Regions from separate parts of the Homo sapiens genome. Here region 2 is linked to region 1. Evidence: fine-mapped QTL for protein levels in blood plasma. Region 1 holds a variant in brackets. A gene starts in the other region. All regions are shown on their reverse strands.

What was found. A credible set is the group of variants that fine-mapping cannot tell apart. PIP is the chance, under the fine-mapping model, that this variant and not a neighbour inherited with it causes the effect. Protein levels are from antibody-based Olink assays in UK Biobank. Linkage for the fine-mapping came from a reference panel and not from the study's own genotypes, which makes the PIPs less certain.
Region 2: it holds the start of TNFRSF4, and the variant in region 1 is the best candidate, but not a certain one, in a credible set for the plasma level of the TNFRSF4 protein (UK Biobank, PIP 0.55).

The regions. Positions count from the first base shown.
Region 1 is chr12:112,440,780-112,450,156 of GRCh38, reverse strand. PTPN11 (protein tyrosine phosphatase non-receptor type 11) reads right to left here. Exons shown (of 16, transcript NM_002834.5): 2 at 3,759-3,881. Among named protein-coding and RNA genes, the nearest start is that of PTPN11, 27 kb to the right of the region's middle. The variant C/T (reference allele first, on the strand shown) is at 4,485.
Region 2 is chr1:1,208,690-1,218,307 of GRCh38, reverse strand. It overlaps TNFRSF4 (TNF receptor superfamily member 4), which reads left to right and starts at 4,155. Exons shown (of 7, transcript NM_003327.4): 1 at 4,155-4,325; 2 at 4,523-4,645; 3 at 5,215-5,316; 4 at 5,604-5,670; 5 at 6,170-6,366; 6 at 6,476-6,604; 7 at 6,683-6,968. The coding sequence starts at 4,181. The coding sequence ends at 6,753. It overlaps SDF4 (stromal cell derived factor 4), which reads left to right. Exons shown (of 7, transcript NM_016176.6): 7 at 620-1,377. The coding sequence ends at 796. RefSeq lists silencers at 5,028-5,077, 9,281-9,390 and an enhancer at 9,257-9,618.

The sequences.
Region 1 (9,377 bases):
CATGTCAACCAACTCAACACAAAGGTCTTTATTAGTATCTTTACCTTGCATATCTTTTTTTTTTTTTTTTGAGATGGAGTTTCGCTCTTATTGCCCAGGCTGGAGTGCAATGACGTGATCTCGGTTCACCGCAACCTTCGCGGTGGATTTACATACATTATAAATCCAGGTTCAAGTGATTCTCCTACCTCAGCCTCCCAAGAAGCTGGGATTACAGGAATGCGCCACCACGCTCAGCTACTTTTGTATTTTTAGTAGAGATGAGGTTTCTCCATGTTGGTCAGGCTGGTCTGAAACTCCTAACCACAGGTGATCCACCCACCTCGGCCTCCCAAAGTGCTGAGATTACAGGCGTGAGCCACCACGCCCGGCCTACCTTGTATATCTTCTATTTTGAATGACTGGCCTATCGAATTGCATATATTAAGTGACAATAACTGTATAGCTACCAAAACACTTGTACAAAAATATTCATTGCCACTTTATTCATAATAGAAAAACATTTTGTTTTTTAATCATAAAAATGTATAAACAAATAGTGCTACATTACTATTCATACAATGGAATACTATGCATTATAAAAATTGTTGTGTTACTACTCATACAATGGAATACTATGCAGCAATTTTTTTGTTTGTTTGTTTGTTTTTGAGACAGAGTCTCACTCCATCACCCAGGCTGGAGTGCAGTGGTGCAATCTTGGCTCACTGCAAGCTCCACGTCCCGGGTTCACACCATTCTCCTGCCTCAACCTCCCAAGTAGCTGGGACTACAGGCGCCCGCCACGACGCCCAGCTAAATTTTTTTGTATTTTTAGTAGAGACGGGGTTTCACCATGTTAGCCAGGATGGTATTGGTCTCCTGACCTCATGATCCGCCGCCTGCCTTGGCCTCCCAAAGTGCTGGGATTACAGGCGTGAGCCACTGTGCCCGGCCACTATGCAGCAATTAAGAAAAAAAAAAAAGTGATGGCCAGGCATGGTGGCTCACGTCTGTAATCCCAGCACTTTGGGAGGCTGAGGTGGGAGGATCACCTGAGGTCAGCAGACCGATACCAGCCTGGCCAACATGGTGAAACCCCGTCCCTACTAAAAATACAAAAATTAGCTGGGCGTGGTGGCAGGCACCTGTAATCTCACCTACTGGGGAGGCTGAGGCAGGAGAATCGCTTGAACCCGGGAGGCGGAAGTTGCAGTCGGCCGAGATCTCACCACTGCACTCCAGCCTGGGCAACAAGAGTGAAACTCCCACTCAAAAAAAATAAAAATAAAAATAAAAAGACACATGTAATTTTAAAGACACATGTAATGACACAGTTTCCAATACGAGGTAGTGTTATCCCAAAGCACAAAACAATATATGCAAAAGGTTACTATATTCATTGAGGCATTATATATCATTTTAAAATATTAGACACAACTAAATCGCTACCTGCTGGTGACAGTATATAGAAGTTATAAAATATTCACATGATAGAATGCGATCCAGCTGATTAAAAAGATGAGAGAGATCACTAAAAGATTTAGGTAACTGAAAAAAATTACAGAGAAATATATTTAATGTTCTACTTGATGTGTAAAAATAAAAGGAAAATAGTAATAAAAATATTAATTTGCTTATTTTTATAAAAAGAAACATAGGGCCAGGCATGGTGGCTCATGCCTATAATCCCAGCACTTTGGGAGGCTGAGACAGGCAGATCCCTTGAGGCCAAGAGTTGGAGATTAGCCTGGACAACATGGTGAAACCCCATCTCTACTAAAAATACACAAATTAGCTGGGTGTGGTAGTGTACACCAGGCGCTGTAATCCCAACTACTTAGGTGGCTGAGTCATGAAAATCACTTGAACCCAGGAGGTGGAGGTTGCGGTGAGCCAAGATCACACCACTGCACTCCAGTCTGGGCAACAGAGCAAGATTGTCTCAAAAAAAAAAAAGAAAAAAAGAAAAAGAATGAAAGAAACACAGAAGGGTAAACAAGAAATTAATAGAAATGGCTACCTACAGAATGGAGATAGTGTGCAAGGGAGTAGGAGTAAGAATGAGATTTCTCAGGCCAGGCGCGATAGCTCATGCCTGTAACCCCAGCACTTTGGGAAGCCAAGGCAGATGGATCACTTTAAGTCAGGAGTTCAGGACCAGCCTGGCCAACATGGTAAAACCTAGTCTCTACAAAAAATACAAAAATTAACTTGGCATGGTGGTACATGTCTGTAATCCCAGCTACTCAGGAGGCTGAGGCAGGAGAACTGCTTGAACTCAGGAGGCAGAGGTTGCAGTGAGCCAAGATTGTGGCCACTGCACTCCAGCCTGGGAAAAAGAGCAAGACTTTGTCTCAAAAAAAAAAAAAAAAAAAGGCCAGGCATGGTAGCTCATGCCTGTAATTCCAGCACTTTGGGAGGCCAAGGCAGGCAGATCACCTGAGGTCAGGAGTTTGAGACCAGCCTGGTCGACATGGTGAAACCCCATCTCTACTAAAAATACAAAAATTAGCTGGGCATGGTGGCATGCACCTGTAATCCCAGCCACTCCGGAGGCTGAGACAGGAGAATAGCTTGAACCCAGGAGGCTGAGGTTGCAGTGAGCTGAGATCACGCCATTGCACTTCAGCCTGGGCAATAAGACTGAAACTCCATCTCAAAAAAAAAAAATAGATCGTTATCAATCAGCATGGAGCTCAAAAAAAAATTTTTAAGTTGCAAAATGATACATACATTATAAATCCATGTATGTGAATTTTTTAAACACACAAACCAACTTTATATTGTTCATACACAGTACAAGTGCAGTACAACTATAAAAACACGTTCAGGAAGAATATATGCCAACCTCTTGGTGGTTTCCTCTGGGGAAAGAGGGAGGGAAACGGGCCTGGGCAGGGAAGCAAAGGGGACCACAACTTCCTCAGTCATGTTTTACTTGTTGATAAAGGAAAGTGATCTGAAGAAACTCTTAACAAGTATTTTTCTTATTAAGAAGTCAACAAAGTCTGAGTGTGGTGGCTCATGCCTGTAATCCCAACACTTTGGGAGGCTGAGGCAGGAGGATCACTTGAGGCTAAGAGTTAAAGATCAGCCTTGGTAATACAGTGAGACCTCATCTCTACAAAAAATATTTTTTAAAAATGCTGAGCATGGTGGCACAAGCCTGGAGTCCCAGCTACCCGGGAGGCTGAGGCGGGAGGATCACTTAAGCCCAGGAGTTCAAGGCTGCTGTAAGCTGTGATCGTACCACTGCACTCCAGCCTGGGCAACAGAGCAACAGCTTGTCTCAAAAAAAGAAGGCCAGGCATAGTGGCTCACGCCTGTAATCCTAACACTTTGGGAGGCCGAGGCAGGATTGCTTGAGGCCAGAAGTTCAAGGCCAACCTGGCCAACATTGGAAGATCCCACCTCTATTTAAAAAAAAAAAAAAATTGAAAAGAAATAAAATTTTTAAATAAATCAACAGGAAGGAAAAGAAAAATGCAGAAACCAGGTTCAAGATGTGTGGAACAAGTCTCAAGCACTGGAGGGCTTAAGAACTTCTATGACCTGCTCCAACTCACCTTCCATGAGGTCTCAGAGGGAGAAGAAGGGCCCTCCTTACTCCTCTTCTGCTAAATGTCCAGGAGGCCACTCCCCAAACCCTGAAGGCAGCCCAGGGCTCAGATAAGGCCTTCAAACTCGAAATGCAGGCAGCAAGCTATCCAAGCATGGTTTTACCACTTCCTACCTAGAAAACACTCTCAGGATCCTCTCTTTTCATTCCAACTTACCTAACGGAAAGTGTGAAGTCTCCAGGGTTACTTTTACTAGGCCTTGCCAAAAAACTGCCATCAACTCCTCTTGTCAACAGTAGGTTTTCTGCCTCCACACCAGTGATATTTGGGTGAAACCATCTTAAAAAGAAAGACAAAGTAAGTAATAAAAAAACAAGACACTGTCAGCACTACTTTCCACAACAACACAGCTAAGACGCATTATGAGCAGAGTAGAAAATTTTAGAAAATACAAATCAAGACCTTCCCTGTCCCTTCCCCCTCTTCTCCTTGGTCAATGCCTCCTCCCTGCCTTTCCCTTGGTAGAGACCTGGGATTCAGTAGGGGTGTCTGGGGATATGATCAGAGGGACTGGGGGCTAGGGTATTAAGACAGTGCACTGAGGGGGCCAGGCCCAAGAAAACAGACCACGTGCTCGCAAGACTGAGCACATGGAATAAAAATAAATAAACTAGAGGCAGGGCACGGTGGCTCACGCCTGTAATCCCAGGACTTTGGGAGGCCGAGGCAGGCAGATCAGCTGGGGTCGGGAGTTCCAGAGCAGCCTGACCAACATGGAGAAACCCATCTCTACTAAAAATACGAAATTAGCTGGGCATGGTGGTGCATGCCTGTAATCCCAGCTACTTGAGAAGCTGAGGCAGGAGAATCGCTTGAACCCAGGAGGCAGAGGTTGCGGTGAGCCAAGATCACACCACTGCACTCCAGCTTGGGCAACAAGAG[C/T]GAAACTCAATCTCAGAAAAAAAAAAAAAAAAAGAATAAGTTTCTTAATAAATAAGTTACCATGTTGAGGATAGCAAGCCAGGTTTCTCACTGTTGGGGAGACACAAATATGAGAAGGGAGAAAGCCAGAATAAATCCCATGATGTTAGATTGTAATTGGAGGTATTAGTGCAAACTGTAATTTTTAATATATACATGTAAAGACAGAAATGTAGATATAGAAATAGATATGTATGCTTCTGGATGGGAACAGTGGCTCACGCCTATAATCCCAGCACTTTGGGAGGCCGAGGCGGGCAGATCACTTGACGTCAGGAGTTCAAGACCATCCTGGCCAATGTGGTGAAACCCCATCTCTACTAAAAATACAAAAATTAGGTGGGCGTGGTGGTGGACACCTGTAATCCCAGCTACTCAGGAGGCTGAGACAGGAGAATTGCTTGAATCCAGGAGGCAGAGGTTGCAGTGAGCCATGATCGTGCCACTGTACTCCAGCCTGGGCGACAGAGCAAGACTCCATCTCAAAAAAATAATAATAATACAGAAATACATGCTTCGGGGTATGTGTATGTGTATGTGCTTTTATGAATACACACACACACACACATATATATATACACACACACACACATTTCCTAGGTCTCTTCTGAAAGGGTTTGGAAGCAATGACACTCCAGTAGCAATCACACCTAACACCTCTATCTTGGTTTCTACATATTGGGTTTTCCATTCTCCAATGAAAGGAACTGGCCTCCTTGAAGAAATGGCTGATCCCAGCGTTGGGGCAGTAAAAGTAAGAAGATGAACTTGGAACATCCTATTGTGGGCCAGTAAGAGTTCCAACAAGGAGCTATGAAAAGGACACAGGAGACAAACTGCAGGATCCTCTGCTGGCCAAAGTAGGGACAATTTGTACCTCAAAATAAACAATGATAGTAACAGATTATAACCCACTGAATAAAACAGGAAATAGTTCATTCTCTTAGTTTCCTATTTTTTTAACTAATTGTTTGTTTAAAAATTGAAACATGGAGGCCAGGTGCGGTGGCTCACACCTGTAATCCCAGAATTTTGGGAGGCTGAGGCAGGCAGATCACCTGAGGTCGGGAGTTCGGGAGCAGCCTGACCAACATGGAGAAACCCATCTCTACTAAAAATACAAAATTAGTTGGGCGTGGTGGCGCGTGCCTGTAATCCCAGCTACTTGAGAGGCTGAGGCAGGAGAATCGCTTGAACCCGGGAGGCGGAGGTTGCAGTGAGCCAAGATCGTGCCACTACACTCCAGCCTGGGTGACAGAGTGAGACCTTGTCTCAAAAAAGAAAAAAAAAAAACTTGGAAGTACCATATGATCCAGAAATTCCACTTCCAGGTATATACTCAAAGTAATTGAAAACACGGATTCAAATTGGTATTTTTCTATAACTCATATTCACAGCAGCATTATTTGCAAAGCCAAAAGGTGAAAGAAAACAGTGTCTATAGATGGATGAATAGACAAACATTCTAAGTGAACTAAGCCAGTCACTAAAGGACAATGCTATAGTTTGAATGCCGCTCCCCTGAGGTTGAAACTTAATCCTCAGCCAGGCACAGTGGTTCACGCCTATAATCCCAGCACTTTAGGGGGCTGTGATGGGAAGATCACTTGAGCCCAGGAGTTCAAGACCAGCCTGGGCAATATAGTGAAACCCCATCTCTACAAAAAATGCAAAAATTAGGGCCAGGCGCAGTGGCTTACACCTGTAATCCTAGCATTTTGGGAGGCCAAGGCAGGTGGATCACTTGAGCCCAGGAGTTCAAGACCAGCTTGGGCAACATGGCGAAACCCAGTCTCTACAAAAAAATATAAAAATTAGCCATGCATGGTGGTGTGTGCCTATAGTCCCAGCTACTAAGGAGGCTGAGGTGGGAGGATCGCCTGAGCCCAGGAGGTCCAGGTTGCAGTGAGCCAAGATCATACCACTGCACTCCAGGCCAGGCAACAGAATAAGACCCTGTCTCAAAAAAAAAAAAAAAAAGACCGGGCACAGTGGCTCACACCTGTAATCCCAACAGTTTGGGAGGCCAAGGCGGGCGGATCATGAGGTCAGGAGTTCGAGACTAGTCTGACCAACATGGCAAAACCCCGTCTCACAAAATTCCAAAATTAGCTGGGCAAGGTGGCGCAGGCCTGCAATCCCAGTTACTCGGGAGGCTGAGGCAGGAGAATCGCTTGAACCCGGGAGACGGAGGTTGCAGTGAGCCAAGATCGCATCATTATACTCCAGCCTGGGCAACATAAGCAAAATTCCATCTCCAAAAAAAAAAAAAAAGATACAACCATGAAGAGGAGTTTGGCGGGATGCAAAGAAATATCCTAATTAAAGGCCAGTAACAAGACTTAGCAAGTAACACAATGCATTAATGCATAACCTGGACATATAATGGACCAAAACAAACAAAATAAAAGGGAACAGTTTTTGTTGTTGTTTTGTCTTTTGCTATAAGGATATTACTAAAACAATTTGAAAGAGATATAAGGATTTGATGGTAGTCTTGTTATAATATACATTTGGTGATATACTGTGGTTATGTAACCAAGTGTCCTTGTATTTAAGAAATACACACTGAAGTATTTTGGAGCAATGAGACGCCATGTCTGCAACTTACCCTCAAGTGGTTCCAACAAAACTTAAATATAGAGACACATATATGTACACATGTATATATACATGTGTATTTTATATGTAGATATGTATTTTATATATAAAATACATACATATACATACATATATGTGTAGTGTATATATAATTTATATATATATATATATATATATATATATATATATATATATATATATAAAAAGAGAGAGAGAGAGAGGAGAGAGAGTAAACATGGTACAGGTTGAGTATCCCAAATCTAAAATGCTGCAAAATCCATGGCCAGGCGCGGTGGTTCACTCCTGTAATCCCAGCACTTTGGGAGGCGGAGGCAGGTGGACCACCTGAGGTCAGGAGTTCGAGACCAGCCTGGCCAACACGGTGAAACCCTGTCTCTACTAAAAATACAAAAATTAGCCGGCCGTGGTGGCAAGCGCCTATAGTCCCAACTACTCAGGGGGCTGAGGCAGGAGAATCACTTGAACCCAGAAGGTGAAGTTTGCAATAAGCCAAGATCGCTCACTGCACTCCAGCCTGGGTGATGGAGCAATACTCCATCTCAAAAAATAAATTAATTAAATAAATTTAAAAAGTGCCCACATAACACTCAAAGGAAATGCTCATCATAGCATTTCAGATATTTCAGATTTGAGATTTGGGGATTAGAGATGCTTAAGTATATAATAAAAATATTCCAAAATTCGAAAAAATCTGAAATCCAAAACACTTCTGGTCCCAAGCATTTTGGATAAGGGATACTCAACCTGTATAAGGTTGACTTGTAAATCTGGATGAAAAGTTAACACGAATTATTTGTACTATTTTGCAACTCTTATTTAAATTTGAAATTATTTCAAAATAAAATGTTTTTTAAAACCCATAAATGATGAAATCCATCATGAATGGCATCTGCTTCAGAGGAGTCCTCTCTAGTTACCAGCAAAAAGATATTCTTGGGCAGGCGCGGTGGCTCACGCCTGTAATCCCAGCACTTTGGGAGGCCGAGGCGGGCGGATCACAAGGTCAGGAGATCGAGACCATCCTGGCTAACACAGTGAAACCCCCTCTCTACTAAAAATGCAAAAAAATTAGCCAGGCGTGGTGGCATGTGCCTGTAATCCCAGCTACTCGGGAGGCTGAGGCAGGAGAATGGCGTGAACCCAGTAGGCGGAGCTTGCAGTGAGCCCAGATCACCACTGCACTCCAGCCTGGGCGACAGAGTGAGACTCCGTCTCAAAAAAAAAAAAAAGATATTCTTCATGGATTTCAAAAGTCATTGAGATTCATGGTAACAGTAACTTCTAAAGTCAAATTATCCTGGACCTTTCTAAGCTAATAGAATGCTCTGAAATGCTCCCAGGAATATGTCAATATTAAATGTAGAGTTCTAGTACTGACAATCAAGTGAACTTTTAAGAGACTTCTCCACAAATATTGACCCAATTCAAGTATCTTACAACAGTGAAGGAGACCAGGCACAGTGGCTCACACCTGTAATCCCAGCACTTTGGGAGGCCAAGGTGGGAGGATCACCTGAGGTCAGGAGTTCAAGACCAGCCTGGGCAAAATGGCAAAACCCTGTCTCTACAAAAAAATACGAACATTAGCCAGGTGTGGTGGCATATGCCTGTAGTCCCAGCTACTCAGGAGGCTAAGGTGGGAGGATTGCTTGAGTCTGGGAGGCAGAGAATGCAGTGAGCAGAGATCGCACCACTGCACTCCAGCCTAGGCAATCGAGCAAGACCTCTTCTCAGATTTAAAAAAAAAAGGCTGGGCAAGGTGGCTCATGCTTGTAATCCCAGCACTTTGGGAGGCCGAGGCAGGTGGATCACCTGAGGTCGGGAGCTTAAGACCAGCCTGACCAACATGGAGAAACCCTGTCCCTACTAAAAATACAAAATCAGCCGGGCATGGTGGCGCATGCCTGTAATCCCAGTTACTCAGGAGGCTGAGGCAGAAGAATCGCTTGAACCCGGGAAGCGGAGGGTGCGGTGAGCCAAGATCGCCACCACTGCACTCTAGCCTGGGCAACAACGCAAAACTCCATCTCAAAAAAAAAAAAAAAAGAAAAGAAAAGAAAAATCGTAAAGCTCAGATCAAAATAATGAAATATTCATTTGCTTTTTACTCTCTCTGAGAGCTTGTCAGAAGATTGAGTCTGGGCCCGGTGACTCATGCCTATAATCCCAGCACTTTGGGAAGAGCTGAGGCAGGAGGATTACCTGAGGTCAGGAGTTTGAGGCCAGCCTGGG
Region 2 (9,618 bases), not on the chromosome of region 1:
GTCCACCAGGCTGCATGGCCGTTGTTGGCGTTTAGGTTCAGACGGATCAGAGACAGGCGAGCCTGGCCGGGCTCCATCCTCAGCCCCTTGCGGAGGCGTCAGGGTTCTCACAGCCCCTTTTTAACGGGACCACAAGGGGAAGCTCATGCTGGGCCCAGCATGGAGGCAGGTCCAAGGCCCAGCAGGTGCAGGTGGGCGGGGCGGCCTGTGCCACATGGCTGGAATTTACCACCTTCCTCTGAAGCGTTTTCACTGGTATCATGTGTAGGCTTGTTTTTCTCCCACTGCTGAGTGAGTCATCTTGTTTTTATGTAGAATCCTGTGATTCCTGGCGACAGCCAGTGGGCCCGGCCCAGGTTAGGGATCCTTCAGAACTGGGGTCCAGGCCTGTGTAGCCCCTGTGCCCCGTTACCCCTGCTGGCCCCGGGCAGGCCTTCCGGGGCCCCCGGCTTCTCCCTGCCCTGTGTTTTCATTTGTGCCGCCTCCCTTCGGGAACCTTCCAGAACGTGCCCACACTCCCGCTGCAGCCAATAGGCACCTTAAATAGCCACTTCGTGCGGCTGGCCGCGGAGCTCGGAGGGGGAAAGGCGACGCTGACCTGTGCCCCGCTCGCCCGCAGAGCTACATGGACCCCATGAACGAGTACAACGCGCTGAACGAGGCCAAGCAGATGATCGCCGTCGCCGACGAGAACCAGAACCACCACCTGGAGCCCGAGGAGGTGCTCAAGTACAGCGAGTTCTTCACGGGCAGCAAGCTGGTGGACTACGCGCGCAGCGTGCACGAGGAGTTTTGAGCGCCCGGCCGCGCCCCGCGCCGCCCCCCACGCACCACCGGGGCGGCCTCGCGGGTGACTCCGGGCTCCGTGGCTGTCCCGGACCCCACCTCTTCCCTGCCGCCCGCCACCGGCCGACCGACCGCGGCTGCCCCAGTTGATGAGCGGCGTGTCCCCTCTGCAGCGCGCACCCCGGCGGGGCTTTGGCTGTGACGCGGTCGGGGCGCGGGGCTGGGCTGTGGCCCCGCGGCGCCGCCTCCTCCCTGGTCCCTCGAAATCGTGGCATCTCACTTCTGAGAACGAAATCTCGCTTCAGTCACTCTGCCGAAGGCGCTGACGGCATCGCGGCCGGAACCTCTGGGCCCGGCCCCTCCCAGGGCCGCCGCTCCGTGGGAAAAAACAGCTCCTCCATTTCCTTGAAAACTGAACGATTATTAAAAATAGATTAAACTTCGCTGGAAATGAGTAGCCAGGAAGTTCAGGGGAGGGTGCCGGGTCCTTCCCGGGCCTGGCGTGTCGGAGCCACCCAGGTCCCGCAGCTGCCGCTGAGAAAATGCAAATATTTGTTGTGACAAGAATCACATACATTTACTTTAAATATAGTTGCCTTTTTTGGTCAGCTTCATTCTTTGGGCGTGAAACAAAACACAACAGCAGCGTGCTAGGTTTGTGGTTACAGTTTCCACTGGAGCGCTGGAGGCTGGTGCTGGGTCACGTGGAGGGTTGGAGGTCATGGCCGGTTCGAGGTGATTCTCCTGGCAGGTGGCAACGGGCAGGGGCTCTGGGAGGACGGAGGGCAGCGCTGCGTTTGTGAGTAGGGGTCAGGGGGCAGCAGACGTGCCCACTGAGTTTGGGGTTTGGACATTTAAGGCAGGAGACAGAGCCGCCTGGGGGTTTTGGGTGGAGGATGGCAAGGTCTTTGGGTGCAGTGGGGCAGGCCTAGCCCCAGATGGGGCAGAGAATGGGGTGTGTTAGGACGGCTGGTGGGGGTCCTGCTCTGTGGCGTGTGGGGGCCCAGGCTGTGTCCTGGCTCTCCCAGTGGGAGCTCAGGGAAGCCGGGAGTGTGTCCTCTTCAGTCTGCCCTGTGGTGCCCATGTGACCGGCCTCTGCCCTGAGCCCACCTGCCCAGGGGCCCCTGTGGGGCCGAGAGGGCGGGTTGGCACCTGGGCTGGTTCCCAGGCAAACGAGATTCACAGAGCCACGGCCAGCGCAGGTGGTGGGAGGATGGTCCCACGCCCTGCTCTAAGGGGCTGTAATTCCCTGGAGCCAACCTTCGGTGGCCTGGACTCTGTCTTTCCCCATCCGTGGCCCCAGGCCACAGCCAGGGACCATCATAGCTGCAGCAGCATTCGACGCCCTGTGCTGAGGGCCGTGCACCCAGAGGTGGGAGGTGTGAGCTGAGGCCATGCTGTGCTGGACATGAAGGCGGGGGGACAGCTGGGTATGTGGTGGCACCTGGCCCTTCAGAGGCCCCAGCCAGCTCCAGTCTGGTACTGGAGGAGCAGTGGCCACTCATGGGCTGCCCTGTGCCGCCCGCGACACTACTGTGTGGAGCGGGGAGCCCAGCTCCTGGGGATGTGGTTCGAGCTGCAGGCTGCCTTACAGACCTTGGGGGTCCTGAGCTCTGGGTCAGTGTCCAGCCTCCTGTGGCCACGCCACACCCGGTTCCATGGACACAGCAGGGCTTTCTTGGACCTGTGACCTTAAGCCCAGGACAAGGAGACCTGAGCTTCCTGGGCAGCTTCAAGCAGGAGGGGCCGTGCCCCATCCTGGGGCCATTGCAGTTGCCAGCAATATGCTGGGGGTGCCCTCTCCATGGTGCACGGGCCCCACTCACTGCACCTGTGGGCAGATGTGGCCACTTAGGCCCCAGGAGAGCAGTGTTGCCCACCAAGACCCCCAGTTCACCTGAACCTCCAAGGAACCAATTGCAAATGTAAGCTTTTTCTCACTGTCAGTGGGAAACCCTTGTGAACGCTGGGTGGAACCTTCCACAAAATGCCAGAACTTTCCTCCTCTGCCCACCTGGGTTGGGGTGTGCACATGCAGGTACACACACTGTCTGGGATGCTCTGAGCCCTTCCAGGGTCCTCTCTACTTGTGGGGACGTGGGGAGGGTGACCAACTTAGGGACCCTCAGTCCGAGGGCGGGTGGCCTCTCCCTCCACTCCCTCCCTCTCCAGGGCCAGCGGGCTCCACGGCTGGGAATTTCCCCACGGGTGGGCCGAGGACAGGCAGCTGTTTCCTGTGCTCCTGGGAGGAGGGGATTTCCAGCCCCTTCCCTGCTGCTCTGTTCCTAGAGGCCCCTCTCCACTTGCAACTTCAAAAATGAACTTTTGGATAATCACAGGCTGGTCACAGTTATTTGAAAGGTGCAGAAAGGGCCCAGGGAGCCCCCAGCCCCGCACCTGCTCCCCAGCTCTCCGGGCAGTTCGCATCCTCTGGGCAAACCTGGAACCTGAGAACTGTTTGCATAGAAGGTGGAAACCTGCCTGCGTGCCCGTGTGCGCCAGGCCATCCAGGACCCACCCTCACCACCTCCTCAGAGGCCTGTCTCCAAACACTGCCACATGGGGGTTAGGGCTTCCACGCAGGAATTTAAGGGGCACAGTTCAGCCATAGACACCTGCCGTGCTCAGGCACACTCAGCGTGGGCTGTGGTCACGGGTGTCTTTTTTTTTTTTTTTGAGATGAGTCTCGCCCTGTCGCCCAGGCTGGAGTGCAGTGGCGCCACCTCTGCTTTGCAACTTCTGTCTCCTGGGTTCGAGTGATTCTGCTACCTCAGCCTCCTGACTAGCTGGGATTACCGGCGCCCGCCACCACGCCCGAATAATTTTTGTAGTTTTAGTAGAGACGGGATTTCGCCATGTTAGCCAGACTGGTCTTGAACTCCTGACCTCAGGTGATCCACCCGCCTTGGCCTCCCAAAGTGCTGGGATTACAGGCGGGAGCCACCGTGCCTGGCCATGGGTGTCTGTCTTACCATGGCTGTGGTCACTGCTGCTCAGAGCTAGTCTTGGGCATACAAGGGGGACCATGCTTCAGCAGTGCCACAGCCCTGAAGGTCCAGACTGAGGAGTTGCCTCTCCTGACTCAGTGCTGCCTCAGTTTACCCACGTGCTCCATGGACCTTTTTGCTGAGGGTCGAGCCGCAGGCCAGGCCCTACTGTGCCCTGGGGTCTGAACACGGTGGTCTTGGGCAGAAGAGGTCAGAAGGCAGAATAAGCCAATGCTGGGGGTGCCCAGACCCCGCCTTTGTGCCCAGCCCACAGCCAGGGTCCCCGGCCTGCCACCTTCCTCCTCCCGCCTCCTCTGCCCTCCTCCCCTCTCCCCTCCCCTCCTCCACAGTCCTTATAGCCACACCCCGCAAGGAAAACCCAGACTCTGGCGACAGCAGAGACGAGGATGTGCGTGGGGGCTCGGCGGCTGGGCCGCGGGCCGTGTGCGGCTCTGCTCCTCCTGGGCCTGGGGCTGAGCACCGTGACGGGGCTCCACTGTGTCGGGGACACCTACCCCAGCAACGACCGGTGCTGCCACGAGTGCAGGCCAGGTGAGGCCTCAGGAGGGGTCGCCACGCACGGGCACTCCAGGGACTGGGGGCTGGGGCAGGGATGGGCCAGCCAGGAGGCTGGTCCTGGGGAGGGGGCGGGTGAGGGGCCGGCCAAGCCTGGCAGAGGAGCCGCCTGGGGGGGTCCACGGGCGCAAGCCTGGGGCCTGACCGCTGCCTGACGCCGGCCTCTGCTGCAGGCAACGGGATGGTGAGCCGCTGCAGCCGCTCCCAGAACACGGTGTGCCGTCCGTGCGGGCCGGGCTTCTACAACGACGTGGTCAGCTCCAAGCCGTGCAAGCCCTGCACGTGGTGTAACCTCAGTGAGCTCCCACCTGGCCCCACAGCCCCACCCAGCACAGGGGGCGGCAGCCTGGCACCCACATTCCCACGCAGCAGCATGGGGCTCCCACAGCCGCAGAAACGAACCTCAAACCACAGCGGGGTCTGCTCCGCCACAGGGGTCCTTCGAGGAGCTGAGGCGTCTCCCAGGGGCACCCCCTCTCCCTCCGGGGGCCCAGACTCGGCCCAGGCCACGTGGAGTCGGGGAGACCACGCTGGCCATGTGGCCTGGCCTTGCTGGCCTGAGCAGTGAGGCTGGGGGGTTGGGCCATGGAGACCCTGCCGCAGGCGGGGCTGGCGGCTGGAGGCGGTGGAGGGGTAGGGAAGGGTGGCTGGGGCTGCCACGGAACCAGCCCCAGGTTGTGGCCAGGAAGGGAGGGCCCAGGAGCCTCGGGGGCTGCAGGGGCTCCAAGTCTCAGGGGAGGCCGCAGACCCCTGCCCACGGCCCTCTGTGTGGTGGGGAGGCCAACCTGTCCTCCAGTGCCCACGCTTCCTGAGGACCCTGTCCACAGCCCCCACCTGACCACCCCCCCATCCGGCCCCTGCTCAGGAAGTGGGAGTGAGCGGAAGCAGCTGTGCACGGCCACACAGGACACAGTCTGCCGCTGCCGGGCGGGCACCCAGCCCCTGGACAGCTACAAGCCTGGAGTTGGTGAGCTCGGTGGCTGCGGCCGGCGGTTGGGGGTGTGCATAGCGGCTGTCTGTGACGCAGATGGGCCGTGGGCCGCAGGGACCTGGCCCCACCGGTGCCTCCTCTGGCATCCTCAAGACCGAGCTCCCGGGTCAGGGCCCACGGGTGGGATGTGGGCAGGGAGGGCTTCCAGAGGCCAAACCCACCACCCAGCCATGGGGGGCAAGTGCCTGCCCCACAGGCTCTGCCCCATGTCCCCAGCACCCGGGGCCTGTGGGCAGCCCCTGACCACCCTATCTTTGTTGCAGACTGTGCCCCCTGCCCTCCAGGGCACTTCTCCCCAGGCGACAACCAGGCCTGCAAGCCCTGGACCAAGTGAGGGGCCTGGCCAGGGGCTGGGAGGGGCTGGGGGGGGGTTGGGGTGGTTAGGAGGGCGGAGGAGCTGGGGAGCTGGGAGGGGCTGGGGGGGCAGGTGGGGTGGGGGCAGTTTTGGGGGAAGGGGAGGTGCTGGTGGCCCTGGGGGCCTGGCTATGTGGCTGGACCTGGTTGGGGAGCAGGAAGCTGCTGCCTGGGGGCAGCCTTTCCCTGTGGGTGGAGCTGGGTGTGTGGGACCCTCACCCTCCGCAGCTGGGAGGCCCTGGGGGCACAGGACAGGGAGGTGCTGGTGGGGGGTGTAGATGTGGGAGAAGGGTGTGTGGCCTTGGAGGCCCCTGTGGGGGGCACGTGGGGCTGGGCAGCGTCCTTGGCTGTCACTGGCCTGGTGTCTGTGGTAGATGCTGCCTGTGGCTGGCCAGCGTGGACCCTGTTATCCCCACCGCATCTCCCGGGTCCCAGGGGGTTTCTGGCCTGAGCAACACCTCCTGTTCCCCAACAGCTGCACCTTGGCTGGGAAGCACACCCTGCAGCCGGCCAGCAATAGCTCGGACGCAATCTGTGAGGACAGGGACCCCCCAGCCACGCAGCCCCAGGAGACCCAGGGCCCCCCGGCCAGGCCCATCACTGTCCAGCCCACTGAAGCCTGGCCCAGAACCTCACAGGGACCCTCCACCCGGCCCGTGGAGGTCCCCGGGGGTAAGGGCGCCTGGCCCAGCCCAGCGGGGCCCCCAACCCGAATAGGAGAAGGGGAGGGCGGCATGGGGGCCCCTCCTGTGGACCCCACCCAGCAGACCCCTTCCTGCAGGCCGTGCGGTTGCCGCCATCCTGGGCCTGGGCCTGGTGCTGGGGCTGCTGGGCCCCCTGGCCATCCTGCTGGCCCTGTACCTGCTCCGGAGGGACCAGAGGCTGCCCCCCGATGCCCACAAGCCCCCTGGTGAGTGCCTCATGGCCCTGCCGCACTGCTCCTGGCGGGTGAGGCCCACCCACCAATCTCTCCTTTTTTCCTCCCCAGGGGGAGGCAGTTTCCGGACCCCCATCCAAGAGGAGCAGGCCGACGCCCACTCCACCCTGGCCAAGATCTGACCTGGGCCCACCAAGGTGGACGCTGGGCCCCGCCAGGCTGGAGCCCGGAGGGTCTGCTGGGCGAGCAGGGCAGGTGCAGGCCGCCTGCCCCGCCACGCTCCTGGGCCAACTCTGCACCGTTCTAGGTGCCGATGGCTGCCTCCGGCTCTCTGCTTACGTATGCCATGCATACCTCCTGCCCCGCGGGACCACAATAAAAACCTTGGCAGACGGGAGTCTCCGACCGGCACTGTGGGCTGCACACCTGTGGCATGGAGGCTTGGGCCGTGCCCGCCTCTGACTGGAGAGGGGTCTTGGGAGGCTTGGGCCGTGCCCGCCTCTGGCTGGACAGGGGTCTTGGGAGGCTTGGGCCGTGCCCGCCTCTGGCTGGAGAGGGGTCTTGGGAGACTTGGGCCGTGCCAACCTGTGGCTGGAAAGGGGTCTTGGGAGACTTGGGCCGTGCCAACCTGTGGCTGGAGAGGGGTCTTGGGAGACTTGGGCTGTGCCAACCTGTGGCTGGAGAGGGGTCTTGGGCCAGGGTGGAGGTGAGGGTAGCGGGGTCAAGTGGGACCCTGGAGGTTGGTCCCTGGGTGCGAGTTCCAGATTGAGTGGGGAGCGGGGGGAGAGACTGGGAAAGCTCAGGCCCAAGGCTGCCTGGGGTGGAGGTTCCTGGCCAGGCGCTGACAAGGGCAGCTGGCCCCTGAGCCCCGGGTTGCCCAAGGAGCTTGGGAGTGGCTGACCCCCGGGGCTCTGTGTCCTTGGAGGAGGAGTGTAGAGACCTGCCCCTCTTCCCCTCCACACCTACGCCCACCCCTTGCTGCACCTGGAAGGGGGTCCCAGGGCCCCTGAGCACCCCGAGGAGTCCCTGCAAAGGGCCCACACGGCCCCTATGTCCCTGCCATAGGTGTCCAGGGGGACAGTCACCTTGGAAACCACAGTTTCTGCTTGAGCCAACTTTCTGTCCACCCTGGGCCCCGGCCGTCCCACTCCTGCGCACTTAAGAGTCCTGGGATCTGAATGAGAATGACCACAGCGACTTCATGTAACGTGGCCCCACAGTGGAGAAACCCAGGCATCCGCCAGCAGCGTGGATGCGCGAGTGCTGGCGTGTTCAGATGAGCTCCCAGCTCCTCGGCCCACACCACAGGTGTCCACAGACGCTCCCAAGGCCCTGGGGCCGTCCCCGGCCGTGCGGGAATCTTCTCAAGCTGGTGTCTGGGAGTGGGGTATCCTTCGAGCAGCACAGAGCCTGCTCCCGAGCGCCAGTCACGCCCGAGGCCACAGCTCGGGAACAAGGCGGGAGCAGCCCTGCAGGCTTCCCGCAGGGAAGACACCCCGGGCGTCTAAGCGACATCTGTGTCCCTCGGGAGGCGGAGGTGCCTGTTCGCCTCCATGGTGTCAGGGGCTGAAGAGAAACACTCCCGAGGGCTAAGACGTCTCACTGCACTTGTTTTTTCTTTCTTTTTTTTTTTTTGCCGGAGTCTTGCTGTGTCACCCAGGCTGGAGTGCAGTGGTGTGATCTCAGCTCACCAACCTCTGCCTCCCGGGTTCACGCCATTCTCCTGCCTCAGCCTCCCAAGTAGCTGGGACTACAGGCGCCCAGCACCACACCCGGCTAATTTTTGTATTTTATTAGAGACAGGGTTTCACCATGTTGGCTAAGCTGGTCTTGAACTCCTGACCTCAGGTGATCCACCTGCCTCGGTGCCCTGGAGTACTGCGATTCCAGGTGTGAGCCACCACGCCTGGCCCTCACTGCACTCATGAGCAAGAAACACACAGCCGAGGCCGGTCACGGTGGCTCACGCCTAGAATCCTAGCACTTTGGGAGGCTGAGGCCAGACGATCGTCTGAGCTCAGGAGTTTGAGACCCGCCTGGGTAACATGGCAAGACCCTTTTCTATGAAAAATAGAAAAAATCAGCCGGGTGTGGTGGTGCATGCCTGTGGTCCCGGCTACTTGGGAGGCCGAGGTGGGAGGATCACTTGAGCCCAAGAGATGGAGGCTGCAGTGAGACGTGACTGGAAAAAAAAAAAGAAATTTAAAAAAATTACTTAAGAAGAAACACATGAAGCCTCATGGAAGGTTTTGCTGAGGGCCTGGCACAGCCTGGACACTCCGGCTACCGTGGCTGGTGTGGCCCAGCCCCGCAGCTGCACCCGCTGCCCCACACAGCGTCCCTGGGCCAGCCTTCCCTCTCCCTGCGTCCTCCAACAGCGCACGCTGCCCACGGCTGTCCAGGCCTCCTGTGCCTGGCGGATGGCTCCCCCCTGCCGGTGTCGTGGAAGTGGGGAACCGGCCCCGGGGGTGCACAGTGGGAGCGCCACGCGCCACTCACAACAGCCCAAGGTGCCGGGACCACAGGTGGCTGTAAGGAAGACGCCCATCTCTGGCCTCGGGCTGCCCTGGACCCCTCCTGCCTCTGCAGCTGGTTTTCTCCCCTGGGTCTCTCTCTCCTCAAACCTCTGTCTTCCACCCACTCTCTGCTAACCACAAGCCTCCCCCCCCGCAGCATAGGGAAGTCAGAGGCCGTCCTGTCCCCCATCCAGCACCTTCACCGAGTTCCCCGGGTTCCTGCACACGGTTCAGCCTGCAGGCCCTGCACAGGGTTGGGGCCGCGCCTCTGAGAGCCCCCCGCCCCCCGCCCCGTGGGGCAGGCGAGGCCAGACCTCCAGGCAGGATGGCGGGTGGGTGGGGGAAGGGGTCAGGTGGCCGGGACTGGAGCGGCCAGATCCTGTGGGGCCCGCAGGTCGACGGCTATGGGAAAGGGGCCTCCTCCCCAAACCTGGCGCCCATACCCATCGCTTCCTGTCTCCTCCCCTCTGGGCACAGCACCCCCCAGGCCCCGTGGGACTTATTCCCCAGCAGGACCCCTTGCCGCACCCC